Homo sapiens: one gene and its partners. Each later gene encodes a partner of the first gene's protein in a complex. Links are inferred from orthologs where the notes say so. Each region holds a gene or a part of one and is shown on either strand. Other genes may lie near its edges.

What was found. Proteins that work in one complex are often made in the same cells at the same time.
Region 2: the proteins of ARRB1 (region 1) and AP2B1 are in contact, whole or in part, in a crystal structure (PDB 2IV8), measured with the Homo sapiens proteins. Residues at the interface, in NP_004032.2 of Homo sapiens: Asp384, Asp385, Val387, Phe388, Glu389, Phe391, Ala392, Arg393, Arg395, Leu396; in NP_001273.1 of Homo sapiens: Arg834, Gln835, Phe837, Leu838, Trp841, Lys842, Asn846, Glu849, Ile876, Ala877, Arg879, Val881, Glu882, Gln884, Tyr888, Glu902, Arg904.
Region 3: the proteins of ARRB1 (region 1) and CLTC are in contact, whole or in part, in a crystal structure (PDB 3GC3), measured with the Bos taurus proteins. The link is inferred for Homo sapiens from one-to-one orthologs. Residues at the interface, in NP_776668.1 of Bos taurus: His30, Ile31, Asp32, Leu33, Val34, Glu35, Pro36, Pro96, Thr98, Arg99, Tyr173, Pro175, Lys355, Thr374, Asn375, Leu376, Ile377, Glu378, Leu379, Asp380; in NP_776448.1 of Bos taurus: His12, Leu13, Gln14, Gln16, Asn17, Leu18, Gly19, Val50, Asn56, Asp57, Pro58, Ser59, Asn60, Ile62, Arg63, Arg64, Pro65, Ile66, Ser67, Ala68, Lys78, Ile80, Leu82, Lys83, Ala84, Thr87, Gln89, Phe91, Asn92, Ile93.

What each region holds. Positions count from the first base shown.
Region 1 is NC_000011.10:75,259,592-75,264,671, reverse strand, and holds the end of ARRB1 (beta-arrestin-1), read left to right. Parts: 3' UTR 1-4,550; downstream 4,551-5,080. UniProt on the Homo sapiens protein: Functions in regulating agonist-mediated G-protein coupled receptor (GPCR) signaling by mediating both receptor desensitization and resensitization processes.
Region 2 is NC_000017.11:35,625,309-35,632,348, forward strand, and holds part of AP2B1 (AP-2 complex subunit beta), read left to right. Parts: intron 1-1,312; coding exon 1,313-1,534; intron 1,535-2,076; coding exon 2,077-2,197; intron 2,198-2,322; coding exon 2,323-2,418; intron 2,419-7,040. UniProt on the Homo sapiens protein: Component of the adaptor protein complex 2 (AP-2). Adaptor protein complexes function in protein transport via transport vesicles in different membrane traffic pathways.
Region 3 is NC_000017.11:59,615,476-59,622,921, reverse strand, and holds the start of CLTC (clathrin heavy chain 1), read right to left. Parts: upstream 3,028-7,446; 5' UTR 2,791-3,027; coding exon 2,749-2,790; intron 1-2,748. UniProt on the Homo sapiens protein: Clathrin is the major protein of the polyhedral coat of coated pits and vesicles. Two different adapter protein complexes link the clathrin lattice either to the plasma membrane or to the trans-Golgi network.

The DNA of each region.
Region 1 (5,080 bases):
GAGCCAGAGCTGCTGACTGGTCTCTCTGCCTCCAGAGGGGATTTATTGGACCTCAGAGGTGGCAGGGCCCTATGGAGCACCAACTGCCCTCAACCCCACCCTGTGCCCAAGACTGGGAAGGGATTGATGTCAGGCTGTGGCCATAGGTAGCATGAGTTGCCCAAGGAGGGACAGAGCATATCTTTGCTGAGGCTTGGCTGAGGGGCTTATGATAGGGCTTGCAGTACCTCACAGCCCCCTGTGGGCACAGACACCCTGAGGTTTACCCAGGCAAATATATTGATTAGCAGGACAAGGGCTCTCTCCTCAGTTTCTGCTCCCTTCCATCTCTCTCCCATACTTGTCTGAAAAGGGAGACAAAAAATCTTATACAAGTGGCATCTCAATCCTTTCCAGTCCAGCACCTCCTGGGGCAGGCAGTGTGACTTATTTCCTGTGGTGAAATCACCTGTTTCACAAGCCTGGCAGCGCGACTTCTGAGTCTCATGACCACTCAACCCAAGGGACCCCTCCCCAGACCAGAACCAAGTCAGCTGGGGGCTGTCGTACTACCCTGTCCAGTCTTGAGGGCCTAGTTGCAGGTCCCCCAGGCATCCAGCCCCTCCTAGAGCTTGCTGGGCAGGCTGCACCTCATCTGGGCAGGCGCAGAGCTGATGAAATGCTGGAGCAATGCATGGCAAACATATGCCCTCCAGTGTCTTCTGAAACCTTTGGGGCTGACACAAGATCCTTTAGTGTTTGGGATGACCTCTTTCCTGCAGACTTCTTCCCCTATCCCTAACTCATGCATGGAAAACGTTTGTCAGGCTGGTTTCCCGAGCCTCCTGCACCTCAACATCACGCTCACCCTTTTGGGTTTAGCCCAGTGTTATTTAGCAAATTTCTCCAGCTGCAGGGAAGGATCAGAGCACTATCTTTTTTTTTTTTTTTTCTCCTGGAGCCAGGACTGCACAAGGCAATGGCCAAATTTAGTTGAATTCAGCCTACCATCCTTTGCTGATGACTCAGCTCTATGCCAAGTACTGGAGCCACAGAGATGGGTCAGTCCCAGCCCCTGTCCTCAGGAAGCCCATGGTCAGGGAAACGTTGTAGGGATAAGTAATAGAGGGCAGTTGCCTTCAGGGCTCCTGGTGGCTGCTGGTCCCTATGGTGCCTTGATGTGAATTAGAAGACGGTGCCCTTTCCAGGTGGATTCAGACCTACACTAGAACGCACAGCTTTGGGAGTGACACACAGGTTGGATTTTAGCACCCCTTGCCCCTTGGCCAGAGGTGCCCTGCTGCACGGCCATACGCTGCAGCCTCGAGGGACACACAGGCCAAAGTGTTTCCTTCAGCCTCTTCCTGGAGAGGAAGCCGCAGGTCATGTTTCCAAGCTTCTGGTCAACTCCAGGCACCACCTCCCAGCCCCCAAACATGGCCGAGCCAGTGCTTCTCTGCAGGGCCCCTTTCCTTTCTGGAGTCAGCCTGCCCAGGTGATACCTTGAAGTGAAACTAGGGGTGGGGGAGCCTCACTAGGCCCCAGGCACCATCCCACAGTACTGGCGGTTTCTCTGCCAAGTGTTTGGGGCCTGCACTGGCCAAGCCATCCGTCACTGGGACTTTGCAGTGTGCCCTGTGGGTGGCGTGTGGACACCGGTCCGGGCAGGAAGGAAAAGCATGCCCCGGTGAAAACCCACCGAGCAGAGAGCCAGCGGGACCTCCTCAGCATTCCACCCAGGGGAAGAGTTCAGTCCCCATGAAGATAAGGACTGAGTTATTTGGCTGCACCTCTCCTCAGCCTCAAAGCTCAGACCTGCTAGAGTGGGTTCACCTGGCTGTTGGTTCTGTGGGAGAGTTCCTGACAAGCTGGTTCCTACATGGTGCAGTGAAAGGAACTCTGTCCTGGAAGTCCCCAATGCCGCCTCTCAGTCCTGCCTGTCACCAACCACCTGGGGGGCTTGGGCAAGCTACTCAACCTCTGGGGCTCAATTTCCCTAACTGTAAAATGGGATTGTAATCCCTTCCCTGCCTGACGCAGGAATTGTTATGAGGCCCAGATGAGATGAAAGTCAGCGGTCAGGGCTCTGTAAGTTGAAAATGGCTGGATGTGTGTGGCCCTGCCACTGCAGGGATGGCCCAAGGTCACACAGAAAGTTTGCTGCAGGAGGAGCCCTCCCCACCAGTCTTCATCGCTTGCCCTGCTTCTCACTTAGGCAGATGTCAACCAGAATGAGATACAGCCAATTTGGCTTTGATGACCCAGCTGAGAGGGAAATTTAGATACAATTCAGGAATATCATGCCCAAAAATAGTGGTCCCAGCAACCAGGACACAGAGGGAAGACCTGGATATTGTCAGTGATTGGTGGAGGGGGACATCTTGGACCCTCCTAGGCCTGGTGTCACATCTCCCATCTCTCAGACCCCACAGAGGCCAAGGGGCCTTGGCTCTGACCCAGGTTAAAGAGAGCCACCAGCCCCCAGGCTCAGGGAGCTGAAACCACCCATCCGCAGAAATCTAAGGGCAAGGAGAAATAGAAATTGTCTGTTCCTTCCCTTCAAAGTGTAAGGCCTCTTCCAGGAGCAACTGGAGCCACCACAGCTTCTCAGTGACATTGGGAGGGCTTCGGGCCCAGGAAAAACCCAAGCCTTTTGTCCTGAGAGCCGAGCCACAGCGGATGCAGTGGCGTCAGCATCCCAGAGCGGCAGCTTCTCTCCTGCCTGTCACTGGGGACTGGTTGCTCTCCACCCATCCAGGAGGAAGGGGTTAGGTCCCAGTCTTACACTCTTATAGGGTCTCATGGACATAGGCCTATGCCTGTTCTGATATCTATAATTTTTTAAACTCAAAAGGACCAAAACACTCCTGAACCCTCATCTATACGGCCTGCACTGGGCTTGGTGTTTCCTCCTGGCCCAGGCAGCTCCATCTCTTCTGCCATTCCTCCTGGACGAAAGTGGCAGGACCCCACCTCTACCACTTCCCCACAGGGTCACTGCACAGCGGCTTCAAAGACACGCCCTGTTGAAGGGGAAACATCCTCCCCCCATCACACTCCAACTCGTCACCCCAAAAGGGAAGTCAAAGCACAGGTCCGTGGGGCCTATGGTTTGTAGACACTGACACAGTGGTTTTCAAACCAGGTGCTGCGGAACCCCTGATATTCCACAGAGCTTTGTCAGGGGATGCTAAAGTGGGAAGATGGGAGTGGAGGCAAAGGATAGGTTTCCAGCCCTCCTCCCATTTCCGCCGCCACCAGAATAACTCTGCTTTTATCTGTCTTGCCTACTGAGATTTCATTTTCAAGCTTTCTTTGAAGAAGAACTTCAAACCACCATCTCGAGGTTTGATCTTAGACCAGCCAGCACAGGTTCTATTCTTGCTGTTCATGTTGGAATGGCTCCAGCGTTCCAGTACAAAGTGTCTTTGTGTTGGAACTTGGGTCACAGACCCAGGCACAAGCATTTATACACACACACACACACACACACACACACACACACACACACGTACATAGTTGATGGTTTTTCTAGCCAACCCACCCTGAAGCTCTGGCCAAGGTTTGATTTGGACAGGGACCTGGTGCTCAGTGGGGATGGGTCGTGACCCTGATATTGGCCCATGAAGCATGGGGAGCTCTGGAGCAAGGAAACAGGCTCAATCCCCCACTGAGGACTTGTGTCTGCACCCCTATCTGGCACCCCACTTTCCTGGCCTAGGCCCAAGGGACACAGCAGGAGAAGCAGTGTGATAGGAGAGAGGCTAGGGTTAAATTCATCTTTACACAGCGCCGGATGGATGGAAATCTTGGCTCACATAAAAGACAGACTCAGGGAGGATTTTATGACAAAAGTCCCTCCTTTGAGGGCAGGATTCCCCCAGGAATCCTGGACACTTTAGTGAGAACTGGACCAGCCCTTGGCACAAAACCCTGCCTGCCCTGTCCCCCACTCCCACCCCCCAGGGAATTCTAGGTGAAAATGTGAAGCTCAGGGCACAGCAAGCGCATGACACGGGTGTATTACATTCGGTCCGAGTGTGTCCTTAGTTTCCCTGTGTGCAAAATGGGGCTAGTCCAGGCTCTTCCCACCTCACTGGGACAATTGCAAGGGTCATAGGAGAGGTGGGTATGATAGGTGGTCATATGAGGTGGTGAGTATGAGAGGTGGGTGCCTCACAAACTCGGGGTATGGTCCTGACCTGCATGGCAGATGAGCAGAGCACTTGGGAACGAGCATAGGAAGTGCCATCTTCCCGGGCATCTCTGCTCAGTGTTAAGGTCTAGCCACAGACACTGTGGGACCTGCCTCTTCCTATGGAATGGGGGCCTGCATGGGTTGTGTCCTGGGGCAGGAGTGAGGGATGGCTGGGAAGAATCTCCAGGTCTGTGGCCCTTGTGTTGAGTGATTATTTTGTGACACTCTCATTCCTGGACCACCTGCCAGGTTTATCTGTTATACCTGTGGCATTCTTATTATGTCAGACAAGTTATTATAGTTCATTCAACTCTAACAAATGAACAAAAGAACAATAAATAGGAGGCCATTAAAGGTCTTTTGTGGCAGAGGATGCTGGCTGTGCTTTCATTTCTGTCTCATAAGCCCATGGCAGGTCAAAGACCAAGAAATGCCTCCCTGCTGCCCTGGACTGGCAGATGGGGCTCATGACTGGGTGAGGTGCTCTCTTCCCTTGTCTGTGGCCCCAGCTCCAGCCTGGTCCTTGTACCAACTTCTGGAGACTGCCAAAAACTTTTCTCCTGTCCCTCTTCTGCCACTTTTCAGCCTTATGGCCTTGGGAAGCTGGCATACCTCTCATCCCTCTCAGATACCACAGGATTTTGTGACCCATGGTTTGCTCCTGGGGTGAAGCCATCCTATCTTCTATCTTTGGCACCACTGACCACATCAGTGGGAGTCCTCACCCCAGCCCCAGCCCTGGTTCTTGTTCACTTCTTATCTCCTGCCCTGCTGGGTCTTCCTGAAGTCACTTCAGTTTTCAAAGACTTATGTGCCACCTGGTCTAACAGAACATATGGGAGGAGTAAGGATATCAGTGAGGAAGAGTCGATGTTCTAATAGATAATGTACTGTATTAACACA
Region 2 (7,040 bases), on another chromosome or scaffold:
TGGTCTGGCTGAAGCTGATTTCCAAGCTACTAGAATGTAAGTGATCTTCACTTATCTGGGAAATTGTCCCTCTGGACTGAACTAAAGCTCACTCTGATAGTTTCTTTCCATCACTGAAAGTACAAATATAGTCTGGAAATAACTTTACTGAGAATTTTATTTTCTTCTGTTGGCCATTGACATCACATTCATTCATTCACTCACTTAGCAAATATTTATTAAGTGCATACTGTGTGCCAGGCAGTGTTCCAGGCTCTGAGGATACAGCAGTGAACAAAGTCATGGCCCTCTGGGATCACTTATTCTGAAGGATGGGGGTAGGAATATATATAATATGTATAGATAATATAATATATAATATGTATAGATAGTGTAATATGTAATATGTGAGATGGTGATAAGTACTAACAAGAAAGTAAAGTAGAGAAGAAATCTAAGAAATGCTGGGCATTTGGGGGTGAGGGGTTGTATTTTCTTTTTAAAGGATGGCCAGGGAAGACCTCACTGAGAAGGTGGCATTCATATAAAGACCCAAAGGAAGTCAGGAATAGGAGGAAGAGAGAAGTACAGCCTATTTATCTTCTTTCTTTAATACAGTAAGTTAGCTACTTGTGTTGCCCAAGCTACCAAAATTGGATTAATTTCTAAAGAACCCTCAACAGATAATTAAATATCAACCATTTTATGAGGCATGTAAGTGTAGGTGGCAGGGGCTAGGAGAGGGGGGAGACAGGAAAATATAGTAGTGGTGTCCTGCTATTTAAAAAACAAACCCTTTTCAGAGAGTCCCTTATTCTCATTATCCTTAAGAGAGGAGGTTGGATTGTTTTCCCTACCAGCCTGCCTCCTGCTGTATCTTACAATGAAATCTTCAGCCACAACTGCGTTTGCTGTCTCTTCCTATGAAATAACTCTCAGAATGCTTAATTTGACTTCCTATAGGTTGAGTAGAAATGGGCTGAGAGGCAGGGAGCCTTAACATAATATGGGGAGACAAAGAGGACTATAAAACAAGAAGGTAAATGGTGTGAGCTCAAGTGTCTTGGGTATTGCTAGGTTCTTTCCAGTTTGAACATCCCTTATTACTGGTTTCCTGAAGTCTTCTTATGTCCCTGCTCTGCCTGTAGTTTGCTGAGAATGAGGCTTCTGCATTGTTGGATCCCAATTTTACCTAAGCATGGAGCTTTGACTTTTCTAACTAATTCTTTAATTTTTTGATACTTGGCCATTAGACTCTGACATATTACCTTATAGAATGAATTCAGCAAATAAATTATAATTCATGATATTAATTTTCATTCTCCACCCTCAGCATCTGTGAGCGGGTAACTCCCCGGCTATCCCATGCCAACTCAGCAGTGGTGCTTTCAGCGGTAAAAGTCCTAATGAAGTTTCTAGAATTGTTACCTAAGGATTCTGACTACTACAATATGCTGCTGAAGAAGTTAGCCCCTCCACTTGTCACTTTGCTGTCTGGGGAGCCAGAAGTGCAGTATGTCGCCCTGAGGAACATCAACTTAATTGTCCAGAAAAGGTTGGGAAATAGCGAAGTGTTGATTAAAGTGTTTGTAATTTTGCATTAAGCTTAATAATGTCAATGTTAATTAGGCTAGTGTTAATCTCTTTTTAATATATGGAAATGAAAATGTTATATGGCAGAAAAACTTGCTTGCCTAGCACCAGGAGGCTAACAGTTGATATTACAGTGTTTCTATAATAAATGCCATGCGTTGCTCCACAATCCAGTTTGTTTTCTGAAGGGTCTCTTTCTGATATACTGTCTAGTGCCTGGTTGATATGGTTCAGGCTGTAGTTTAGAGCCAGATTGTTGTTCTAGCAGTTCTTCATGGCAACATGTGCCCTGATGCTTAAAAAGGATAAAAATAATCTGCCAAGTGGAACTGATAAGAATAGAGGCGTATAGAGGAAGTTTATGCTTTTTTTTTTTTTTTTTTTTTTTTGCCTGAGTGGAGCGAGAGGAGAGCAGAGAGGCACAGATTAGGTATTAATACAGTCTCAGAAGGGTATATCAGTATATGCCTTCACCTTCCTTTCTTCTGTTTCTGTGTACCCTAGGCCTGAAATCTTGAAGCAGGAAATCAAAGTCTTCTTTGTGAAGTACAATGATCCCATCTATGTTAAACTAGAGAAGTTGGACATCATGATTCGTTTGGCATCTCAAGCCAACATTGCTCAGGTCAGACTTTATGCAGACTCAAGTTGATGATGATTTAGCTCTTAAGGTCTGGCCTTTAAAGAAGCTAGGCTGTGAGATTGCTATTTGAGAATCCTTAATGATTAACCACTTCCTGGGTTTAACAGGTTCTGGCAGAACTGAAAGAATATGCTACAGAGGTGGATGTTGACTTTGTTCGAAAAGCTGTGCGGGCCATTGGACGGTGTGCCATCAAGGTGGAGGCAAGTGTCTGATGGTAGTTAGGATCATGTATTGGGGATTCTGAGAGTTCTCTTCACTTTTTTCTTTAAAATAATTTTTAAGTTTATCAAAATAATAAAGCACACAGTTTCAATGTTAAAGAATTTTTAATGGAAAGCAGCTGTCTCTGGTTCCTCCCTTCCCTACCTAGACTTTCTTCTCAGAGGGAATATTTTTAACTCTGATTTTGCTTTTAGTTATTCTTTTGATTAAAATAGGTCCTCCATATCCATGAGTTCCACATCCGTGGATTCAGCTAACTGCGGATCAAAAATATTCAGGGGAAAAGAAAAAGGATGGTTTTGTCTGTACTGAACATGTACAGACCTTTTTTTGTCTATATTCCTTAAAAATATAACAATTATTTACATAGTATTTACATTGCATTAGGTATTATAAATAATCTAGAGATGGTTTAAAGTATACAAGAGAATGTGTATAAATGCAAATACTATACCATTTTATGTAAGGCACTTAAGCATCCATGGATTTTGGTATCCACAGGGGCCCAGGAACCAATCTCCCATGGATTTGGAGACATGACTGGGCTGCCATATCTCTAAATAATATTCTTGGCTGGGTGCAGTGGCTCACACCTGTAATCCCAGCACTTTGGGAGGCCAAGGTGAGAGGACTGCTTGAGCCCAGCAGTTTGAGACCACCCTAGGCAACATAGTAAGGCTCTGTTTCTACAAAAACTTTTTTAAGTTAGCTGGGTGTGGTGGCACACACCTGTAGTCCCAGCTACTTGGAAGGCTGAGGCAGGAAGATTGCTTGAGTCTGGGAGGCTGAGACTGTAGTAAGCTGTTATTGTGCCACTGCACTCCAACCTGAAACCTTTTCACTCTGGGTGACAGAGCAAGACGCTGTCTCAAAAAAAGAACAACAATAATATTCTTATGCTATTATTTATTAATTTACCTATCATAGACTTTTTCTGTTAACTATCTGCTATAAGAAGTTTACTTCATACACCCACCATTCCCACTTCCGTCTCCTGTTTTCCAGTGTAGTTACATAATGAAGGTTTTTGTTCCTATATCCATTATCATGGTAGATTGAAATAATATGCCTTTGTTTCTTATTCTATCAACTGTTGGCTTGCAAAATTTATGCATATTACGACTGTGTAAATATTTAGGGCCAATGTAATGCAAATGATTACATTTTCTTTCTTATAGCATCTTTTTTTTTTCTGGAGGTTTTTTGTTTTGTTTTGATTTTTGAGACAGAGTCTCTGTTGCCCAGGCTGGAGTGCAGTGGTATGATCTCGGCTCACTGCAACCTCTGCCTCCCGGGCTCAAGCGACTCTTATGCCTCAGCCTCCTGAGTAGCTGGGATTACAGGCATACGCTACCACACCTAGCTAATTTTTGTATTTTTAGTAGAGACGAGGTTCGCCATGTTGGCTGGGCTGGTCTTGAACTCCTAGCCTCAAGTGATCCGCCTGCCTCAGCCTCCCAAAGTGTTGAGATTATAGGTGTGAGTTACCACACCTGGCCCTGGAGTTTCTTTAATTGCCTCTTTTTTTCTTGCATGTGTGTCTTTATCATGCCCCTATATTATTCCTGTTCCTTAAGCATAATATCAAATCTGTAAACTTTCTTTTGTCTTAGACCCTTCTCTTTTGCAGTCCTCTGTCTTCTTGTTTTTTCTACTCTGACTGATTGCTTTTCTGGCTTCTGCACATCATTCCATACAGCCTCCCTATTTCTTGTTATTGGTATATTTTTCCTTGCATTGCTCTTTTTGTGGTTGCAATAGCTTCTTGAATCTCTGAGGATATGAATGATTCGTTTTTTTGTTTCTGCACTTTGAATTTAATTATCGGATATTTTTTGGTGATGATTGCATATCTATGCATATAATTTTTTAATTGAGATGTATACCATGCATACAGTAAAGTGCAGCTCGTTTCTGTTTAAGAAAGAGGTAACAGAAAAGTTGATTAGGACTTCTGTATACATAGGCAAGGCTGTCGACTATCAGGTTTCTGCTTTAGGGAAGGGGGTTTATCTTTACATGGAAGACCTCTTGAAGAGCCTATCTGGTCTTAGAGGGCAGATTGGTTTCTAGCTTGGCTGCAGCCTTCCGGTAAGTATTATGGGCTGTAATTTACATTGCCCTGCTTCATCAGTCAGCAGTCCTCCATTTGTTTGTCCTCATTCAGAAATTTGTTGAAATTAACAGTGGCTTCTGTTCACTGTTTTTATGGGTTCAGAGCCCCATGTTTGTTCTTGCTACTTGATTATATGCAGTTCTGCCTAGAGTCAGAGGATTGGACCATATGATTTCTCAGGAATACGAAAACAATTTGTACAGTATGACCAGTACTTTACCGGAACAAAAGGAGGCAGATGTGTGTCAGAGAATCTTCTATGAAATACCTGTTCCTAATTGGCCTTCCTTGTTTTTTTTCAGTTTAGTGCTGCTTCATGTAGTTTCTGTTGATAAATAATTTAATAGAAAGGCTGTTAACAGCAAGAAGTTAGCTAGTCCTGGGTTCTATTCCTGGTTCTGCTAGCTCACTTGATTCAGATATTTAATGTTTCTCTTCATTGGAGAAATGTTAAAGTCTTTTTGTTGGATCTTGATATGTTAACATTGTTTTTATTACCACTGTCACCACACGTCACAACTTGTTTTTCTTTTCTTTTTACGTTAACATATCTTACTAGCCGTCTACTTAGTATTAATGTAGATAATTTTCAGAGAGATTTTGGTAGCATAAGAGTAAGGTGGTTTTGTTCTCTTCACTAGTGTACATAGCCATCTTTTCCACAAGACTGCCATTGTCTTATGACCTACCTCTCTGACAAAGCTGTAAACAGTAATACAAAAATTATATCTTATTCTGAAGTTCAGAGACTTTCTAGCCCTGGAATTACTAGAAAGTGTTCTCAAAGCATCTAGATTCCTCAAGGCTGTTAGTCATCTATTGTGACTAATGGAAAGGTTCTCCATAATCTTCTGGAAAAGACTTCTGATGGCTTTCACTTCTTCCTTTGACTAAGCGTGCTTTGATGGGAGTATGACAGGATGTGAGGAATGAACTTTCCCAGGAAACTTAAGGTCACCCTTCAGGAATCCTGTCTTATCTAGTGCTGTCATTTCAGATTACCCAGATTTACCTTAGAACTTTTCCTGTAACTGTTTCAGCCATGAAGGTTTTCAGTTTGACAGAGTTGCCAAGCCAAACAGTTAATTGGACCAGGAGAGGCAATGATTGCCTGTTTGCACTAACTCATCCATGGGACAGGAATCAGCAGCATAAGAATTGTAATGAACTTTCTGTATAGCTTTGGGAAGCAACAAGCTGTTGAGCAAATAAATAGCACTGAAAAAGCAATCCTATGGTGCTATTTTTTTGTTCAATAACTTTTGCCTATTTCTTTCAGGAGTAAACAAACTCCTGGTCCTTTTCAGTTTTAAAAAGGAGAGAGGTTGAGGCACTAGGTTAAGACCAGGAGTTCTTCACTTCCTGGTCTTCTGGTTATTTTCTGTTTACTATTTCTGATTTTTATATATTAGAATAAAATATTGGTTTGTGTGTCATTTCTTAAAGACAAAAAACATATTTTTCCTATTAGGAAAACCATATTTGTTTACTATATATAATTATAGAACAAGTTAAACAAAAAATGGGGTACCCCGCTTTCCCCATCTTCTGTTTCACTCTCTCAGATATGCAGTGGACATAATCTGGTAGACATCATTTTATATCATTGTTTATATAGTGTTCTATACAAAGATGTATTTTTTTATAAAAATGAAATCATTCCACAAATGCTATTTATTTACTTTGTTTTATCCTCTACTTTTTTTTTTCTTACTAGTAATATCATGGACATTGATCCACATTATAAAGAAAAATTTATGTCATCTTTAGTTTCTGGTTTATAGACATAACGTGATTACTTGATAACTTACTGAATTTGTAACTTTATCCCTTATTATAGGACCTTAAAGTTGTTTCTACTCTTTTTCCAAATGGTGGTATAAGGAGTATCCTTGCAACTAAATCTTTGAACTCTAGTTGAAGTGAACATTTTTTCATAACAGTTATGCTTATTAGCCATTTGGGAATTGCTCACTCATGTCCTCTGCACCTTTTTCCAATATGTTATCTTTTCCACATTGTTGTTTTAAAGTCTTTTGTAATTGAGATGTTAACCCTTCTTTTAGTTAGCATTTATTTTCCTAGTTTGTTGTCCTTTAGATTTCTTCTGCTTTCTTGATGCACAGAAGTTTAGATTTTTGTATCAGCTTTTCTCAGTCAGTGTTTTTCCTCAGTGGCACACTTAGAAAATTGTGCTTCACCTAAAGTTATATAAAATTCACTATTTTTTTTTTTTTTACTTCTATGGCAATGATTTTGTTTTATTTGTTTTTTGGGGGGTGGTGGGGAAATGGAGTCTTGACTTGTCGCCCAGGCTGGAGTGCAAATGGCGCAATCTCAGCTCACTGCAACCTCTGCCTCCTGGGTTCAAGTGATTCTCCTGCCTCAGCCTCCAGAGTAGCTGGGATTACAGACATGCACCACCATGCCCGGCTAATTTTTGTATTTTTAGTAGAAACAGGGTTTCACCATGTTGGCTATGCT
Region 3 (7,446 bases), on another chromosome or scaffold:
ATTCACATTCATTTGCTGTAGGTCCAAGCTTTGATGACAAGAGATCCTTCAGTTGGACAATGTAGTTAAAGGGTATAAAAATAAGTTCATTTACAGTTTCACAAGGTAACTCTACACTCACACTTAAGTTCCCCATTTCTTGTTTCCAGTTTTTATCCTACGTGTTTCAGAAAGTTTTCTGCTACTTAGCAAACTGGTAGAAGCTCAGAGGTCAAAGACCAAAGATGCCAATTAAAATAATCCTTATTAGTTGGGCTCGGTGGTTCACACCTATTATCCCAGCACTTTGGGAGGTCAAGGCAAAGGATTGCTTGAGCCCAGGCATTCGAGACTAGCCTGGGCAACATGAAACTCCATCTCTACAAAAAATACAAAAATTAGCCAGGTGTGGTGGCTCATGGCTGTAGTCCCAGCTACTCAGGATGCTGAGGTGGGAGGATGGCTTGAGCCCAGTAGGTCAAGGCTGCAGTGAGCTGTGATGGTGCCACTGACCTCCAGCAAAAACCCTGTCTCCTCAAAAAAACAAAATGCTTATTAATTTTTAAAAAGGGAGGAGATAATGATATGAAGTTAGGAGATATATTATCATGAAAGAGGCTGTAGTTATTTGGGCTCCACAATTAATCAACTGGAGCACAGTCATATTAGCTAAGCAAGCTTAAGTTTAGGCATGACATAGCAATCCAAAACACAGAGGACTGAATTTTTCAATTTGCAAATCGCTTTATATTCAAAATCTTCAAATTATTTGAGAAGAAAATGGCTTCATTCAAGCATCTGCAGAAACTTTGATCCAGTTACAAAACAGACATGTATTAAATTTGTCTTTAATAAGTGACAAGGTTGGGTTCGAATCTTTGGGATCATTTAACAATTCTTGTCTCCTCTTTAAAAGAAATGAAAAGCTATTACTCCAACCACCACAAGATTTAGTAGTGAGCTACACATCTGCCGTGGAAAATAAAGAGCAGCTGTACTTGATTCTCTGTGTGGTTTATAAACATTTGTCTGCAGAAAGATATTTCAGATGCAGTTTAATATGAAAATAAGCCCGCGTTTTCCCCTCACACTTAAGAACAGCACCCCTCAACTCTCCACATTCATTTGCCACCCCACTTTAACAAAAGCAACCACAGCAACTAAACTTGGATTGATCAAAAAAAAATGTCCATTTTGTTATTTAACATTTTTAACCCTCTGTAAAAGTGTTTTTATTGCCAAGGTATATTCCATTACTTCAGATGAGTTATTTGAAAATTATAGATGACTGAGGAAAGTGCATTATTTAACTCATTTTATGGGTAAAAATTTATTATTCTTTACATTTCAAGCCTTAAAGGAAAATAAGTCCTTGCTAGTGCAAACATGGTAATACTTGCAAAGAAATATGAAATTATGTTACTTATAGCCTGAATGTTAAAACCTTTTATTAACAAGAATCCTTTATGTATGCTATGCCAATGGGGAAATGTAAATAAAAATGGTCTTCAATGGTAAAGTGTCTAATAGGTCACTGATATCAGTGTCATGTCAAACCACTGCATTCCCTGTCATTATGGAATTAGCCCTTCAGACGACTGAGCTGAGGCAGGTTTCTTTAAGGGGATATTTGGGAAGAAAGCAAATTAATAGGAATAAATTATTTAAGCTACAGTAAAAAACAGGATTGGTGACACAGGAAAATCAAAAGCTCTGAAGAGGTTTAATTCAGTGAAGCCTTCCAATGGTCACCTGCCTAGGCCCGCCACTGGCATGTTGCCAGATAACAATATGTTGCCTCCAGGATAAGGAACCATGGGGAAGAACTCTAGAACTTACTAAAGGGAAGCCAGTCACAGACCAAATAGCCCTGCAGGTCTCAGAGCAGCTGTGCTGTCCCCAGGGCTCTGTTCAATTCCATGCGATCCTGAAGAAGATATTCAAAACTACCTGCTACTACTCGAGAAGACTAAAAGATAACCTCTGTATCACTCTTTCCTACCTTCCAGAACCAAAGAGGGGTTAAGAGCCACAACATCCCCAGAGAAATAAAAAAAGGGGGAAGGGGAGGCGAGTTTCCTTAGGGAGTTTGACCGCACACACTCTGAGATTGACATAGCTCTAAGAAATGCGTTCTCCCATTCTACCCTCGTTCCGTTCTTTCAGTGACCTTCTGTCCCTACTGCCTCAGGGAAGGCAAGAGAAAAGCCACCGCCTCACCACCACCCCCAACCCCCACCACCGGAGAAGGTGCCTTTCTCAGTTGAGAGCCGCAGAGGGAGGGAAAAAAAAGGTTGCTCCTCCCCAACCCACCCGCCCCACAACTCCTGGGTGCAGACACGATGAGGGAAAGAGGAGAGCAATGGAAGGTGACAGCCCCGCACTGGCCCAGGGGATAAGAATCCTTGCTCTGGTAGAAACAAGGGAGAATCCCCCTCCCACTCCCCTACCCAAATGAATGAAATGAATAAAATGGGGAGAGAGTTTGTACGCGCAGTTCTGGCCATCCAGGAAGCAAGATCGAGAGGCCTTTGGATCCAGGCCTGGTCCTTGCAGCTCTTTGCACCCCAACTCCTGTCCTTTCCATCCAAGCCCCACATCATTTAATATTTTAAGCTTTCCAAGATAGTGCCCCCTCCTCCACCTACCCCAATCACCGACAACCCCCCCGCCCCTCCAGCTCCGATACTGCTCGGGCCCAGACTCCAGCGTCTTCCATCCTTCCTACCACCTTCTCCACAGCCCTCACCAGCCCGGGCCCGGCCGCACCTGGAGATGCTCCTGAAAACGAATTGGCAGAATCTGGGCCATGGCGCTGTCGGGGGTTATGGTCTCCTCCTGTCACTGGGGCTGCGGGGCAGTGGCTGCCCGGGCTCTCCAAGGGAGAGGAGGAGAAGGGGAGGGGGGAGGCTGGGCTCAGCAGGATCCTCTCCGGGGACGCAGGAAACTGGCAGGCAGACGAAAGAGCTCGGGTCGGGGGCGGAGGCTCCAGGGGCCAGGAGAGCCGCAATGGCGGAACCGGGCGCAGCGCAGACTCCGGAAACGGCTGAGCCCAGCGGAAGGATCCCGGCGACAGAACTCCGCCCAGTCGCCTCACCCCCTCCGCCTTATGTACCCCTCCACGGAGCGCCGCGCGCGGCGGGCGCAGGAATTCGGGGCGCAGTGCGCCCGGTGCCTCGCTTCCTGACGCCACATGGGGGGAAACAGAGGAACCGGAGGGACTACTTTTTTAGACTCATCACTTTCGCCAGTCTTCTCTTTCTCCCCCCACTTTTTTTTTTTCATTTTGCCACATCATGCGACTCGGGGCGACCGACGTCACTTCCGTGGGCGCTTTAGGTCCCACCCACGTACTTCCAGGTGCACGTGATACTGATGGGGAAGGGTCGGCTGATTGCTGCCAGAAATGGAGAGCTCGTTTTAAGGAAATGCGGCGTCTCCTGGGAGTGAAGAGGCTTTTGGGCCACCTTGAGGCATGACGGGTGCCGCTTCGTTTCCCTGCGACCGCTGCCTGTTTCGACTGAGCCCCTCACAGGAGGACGTGGCGGGGGCAGACGGGCGCAGCCTCCCGCCCTCTCCGTGACTCAGGGAAACGGCCTCGCCGCAGAGCGCTCCCTCGGCAGCTGGCTGCAGCACTCCTCCCCCGCCGGGCTTCAGAGTGGGTGGTTTCCTACAGCCTAGGGAGGGGGCCTGAAACGGGGTTTAAAATCTTCCCTGCCCTCACACAAGCCCTTCTGACTGTTGGAGAACCTGACGCGCGGATTCTAACTAGAACTGGCACTCTCTTCGGGTGTTAGATAATTAACTCAAAGGACAGCGAAGGCCTTTTATGATGTCTTTCAAGCTGGCCTTATGACAGCTTTTCTTAACGTTTCTGCGGACATTTTGGCGGACTTGTGTCGGCCTAGCTCAGTGATCAGTTTCGTTAAAGAATTTGAGTATCCGAACATTAAAGGATTGGACCTAAATTCTAGCAGGAGGATTTTTAGCCACATCAAATAATTTACGTCTCAAAGATTTAGATAATTAGGGTAAGGATGCTTAGTAAAACCCGAAGGTTCCATCGCGCCACTGCACTCCAACCTGGGCGACAGAGCGAGACTCCGTCTCAAAAAAAAAACAAACAAAAAAAAACCTGAAGGTTCCTGGAGGAAAGAGATGAACTATTAGCCGTGTATTTCGGTGGGACCACCTCAACATAGGTTCCTGTAGGTTAGCAATGTAGAAATGTAGCGCTTCAAAGCCGGAGCATCCTGTCTTCAAAGAGCATGAAGGTATCAACGGCATTCATTGTCGATTAATAATAACCTTTCTGGTACTTTCTTGCTAAAGTATAAGCCATAATAATATTTCATAATCGCACCAATACAATAAAGGATGAAAGACGTTAGTTCTGTGCCTTTTATCTTTGTAAGAGAGGTGATTCTCCCCCCCCACCCCCCGCCCCGCCGAAAGAGAAAAGCTCAAGTCCACAATAATTATTTTTAGTGTCCTTTTCAGTTAAAGGACATAAAACCCTATTGGGTAGACGATAGTTTTGTATGCTAAGCAGTTTAGGTTACAGTGAGAAGTTTGCCAATCATTTTAGTTGCTTTTAGTGTTTTTCCCTTTACTTAACTGTCTCACATACTGAGCATGAGAGAAGAGTCTGGCAGGTAAGAGGGCAAAGATTGTTCTGCAAAGAAAAGCCTTGCCACCATGTTGTAAGAGTGAATATTTATGCTTGCAAAATTTCTTTTTGTATTGTTAAGCTAAATACACGAAGATCCTCTGTTCCGCAACATTTGAAATAACCTAATGCCAGTCTAGTAATAACTGCTTTAAACCCTTTTTGGAAGTAGACAAATTCTAAATTAAAATTCTAAGGGAGTAATTGTTTTATTACAGTAATTCAATAGCTTGATCAAGTCACCTTTTCAATCTCAGAATCCGGAGATAAAAGAGCCGTATCATGAATGGGCCACCAAAATTTAATTAGTGTCTGGCATTTTCATACAGACCCTGTAACTTTAAGTACATTTAGAATCCCAAAAGCAGTTGATTTTAGCTATTTGGAGTGGAATATCTAACCAAAAAGTGCGCTGAGGTTGTTAGTGACTGCTACGTCATCACACATAGAAATTACACTGTTTTGAGAAATAATTTAGGAAGAGGAAAAATAGATCGTGATATCCTGGGTCATTTTGAAATGATCTTCAAATTAATCCAAAAATTTTCAAGAGAAAAAAAAAGTCAAGATGATAAACATTAAAAAAAAACCCTATGCCTTTTTAAAGATGAATAATTTGAGTAGGGTAATAAGAGTTTTTTTTTTTTTTTAATGGGAGTCTGCTGTTCTTGGTAACAGTATAAAGGCAGTTTCACTGGTTTCACTGGTTTAGTTACCTAAGCAATACCTGAATGGCACTGTTTTCAGACATTACCTCAAGTTAGAAGGGAGAACAGATAACCTAATAGACCAGGAAGCAAATCCTACTACCCAGAATGGCTTTTTCTACGATACAGTATGACATAGTCTTTTAATAAGACAATGCTATGAATGATCACTCTAGCTTTTGGTTTCAGAAAATGTTTTAGCAAGGTAGCCATGTTAATCAATGGTGAAGTGAAAGCTATTTTAGTTGGAATGCTCATCAACAGTAGACTATCATGAGTCACAGCAAGTGCCATTAGCAAAAACTACATTGCTTGGTCTGTTATTTTGAGGACTGCTAGTTTCTGAAAACCTATACAAGAAACCTGTGTTGTGTCACTAATTTTAATGTTATGCCAACAATTAGGATGGAGATATATACATATATATATATATATATATATATATATATATAAACACTCAATAGAATGACACCTCAAAACACAAACAAAAAACAAAAAAAAAAACAACCCCTTTCACTGTAGGATTTCTCCATTAGCTGTTCATCTTCAAGCAGCCCTAGCACTAATGCCCCTGCCTTTTAAAAACTTGACCTTTTAAAAACAGCCTGAATTCACTGCACTGCAAAAGTCACAAAGAAAAGGCATATCTCACATACTCAGAAATTAATTTTAAAGCAGAACTTTAATCCACTGTACCAAATGTTTACAATTCAGATTCCAATAAAGCCATAAAGGACATACTTTAGTATTATCCAAGTAAGATACTTGGTTTTGCCATTTAAACAGTAGCTTTGAAGCATCTCAACCCCCTGGGGCCACTGATATGAATCCCAGCAGGATTAGACTGGCTAGGTCTTTATTTTTTCATGCAAGATAAGGAGCAGCCTATCAAATGCCAGTAAACAAATGTACAAGTCACTGACTATCGGCAAGGCTCCCCGCTCCAAAATGAAGAAAAGAAAGCAGCATTTACAAAGCAAGAACAATTTTTTTTTTTTGAGACGGAGTCTTGCTCTTGTCGCCCAGGCCAGACTGCAATGGTGTGATCTCGGCCCACCACAACCTCCGCCTCCTGGGTTCAGGCAATTCTCCTGCCTCAGCCTCCCGAGGAGCTGGGATTACAGGCACCAGCCACCATGCCTGGCTTATTTTTGTATTTTTAGTAGAGACAGGGGTTTCACCATGTTGGGTAGGCTGGTCTTGAACTCCTGACCTCAGGTGATCTGCCTGCCTCAGCCTCCTCAAGTGCTGGGATTACAGGCATGAGCCACCACACCCAGCCCCACAAGAACAAAATTTTAATGGCATTTTAATTTTACTATGAAACGTACTTTACTCTTGACATCCACTGCGCAGGCTTGTTTTAAACCTTTAAATATTTAGACAAGTTTTATAACGTACGATGGATAGCAATAAGATCTATAGTGAATCTTTACTTTGTATCAGCATTGGGCATGTTCCAAGTGAAAAGCCAAGACTAGCTTTGTGGGGATCCAATGTAGAATGAAGTCACATTATATAGGGCCCACCCATGTTTTTGAAGGGTTAAATAAGACCCTGGCAGAGGAATGAAGTGGTTCATGACATTACCTTAAAAAGCCATTTCACAAAAGTTGGTTTAGGCAGGACATGGTGGCTCAGCCTGTAATCCCAGCACTTTGGGAGGCCGAGGCGGGCGGATTACCTGAGGTCAGGAGTTTGAGACCAGCCTGGCCAACATGGTGAAATCCCACCTCTACTAAATATACAAAAATTAGCCAGGCACCGTGGCAGGTGCCTGTCATCCCAGCTACTTGGGAGGCTGAGGCAGGAGAATCGCTTGAACTTGGGAGGTGGAGGTTGCAGTGAGCCGAGATCACACCATTGCACTCCAGCCTGGGTGACAGAGCGAGACTCGGTCTCAAAAATAAAATAAGTTTCTGGATGCCTTCAATTTCCCTTTTGTTTTTTGAACCCCCCTGCCTATTTCCCTTTCAATTCTAGACAAATTAAAGGAAACATTCCTATTATAAGCATACTTTTATATAGCACTTTTAAGAAAGGTGTTTATTAATAGGGGATTTCATATCAGAGGATCAGATAAATATGTCT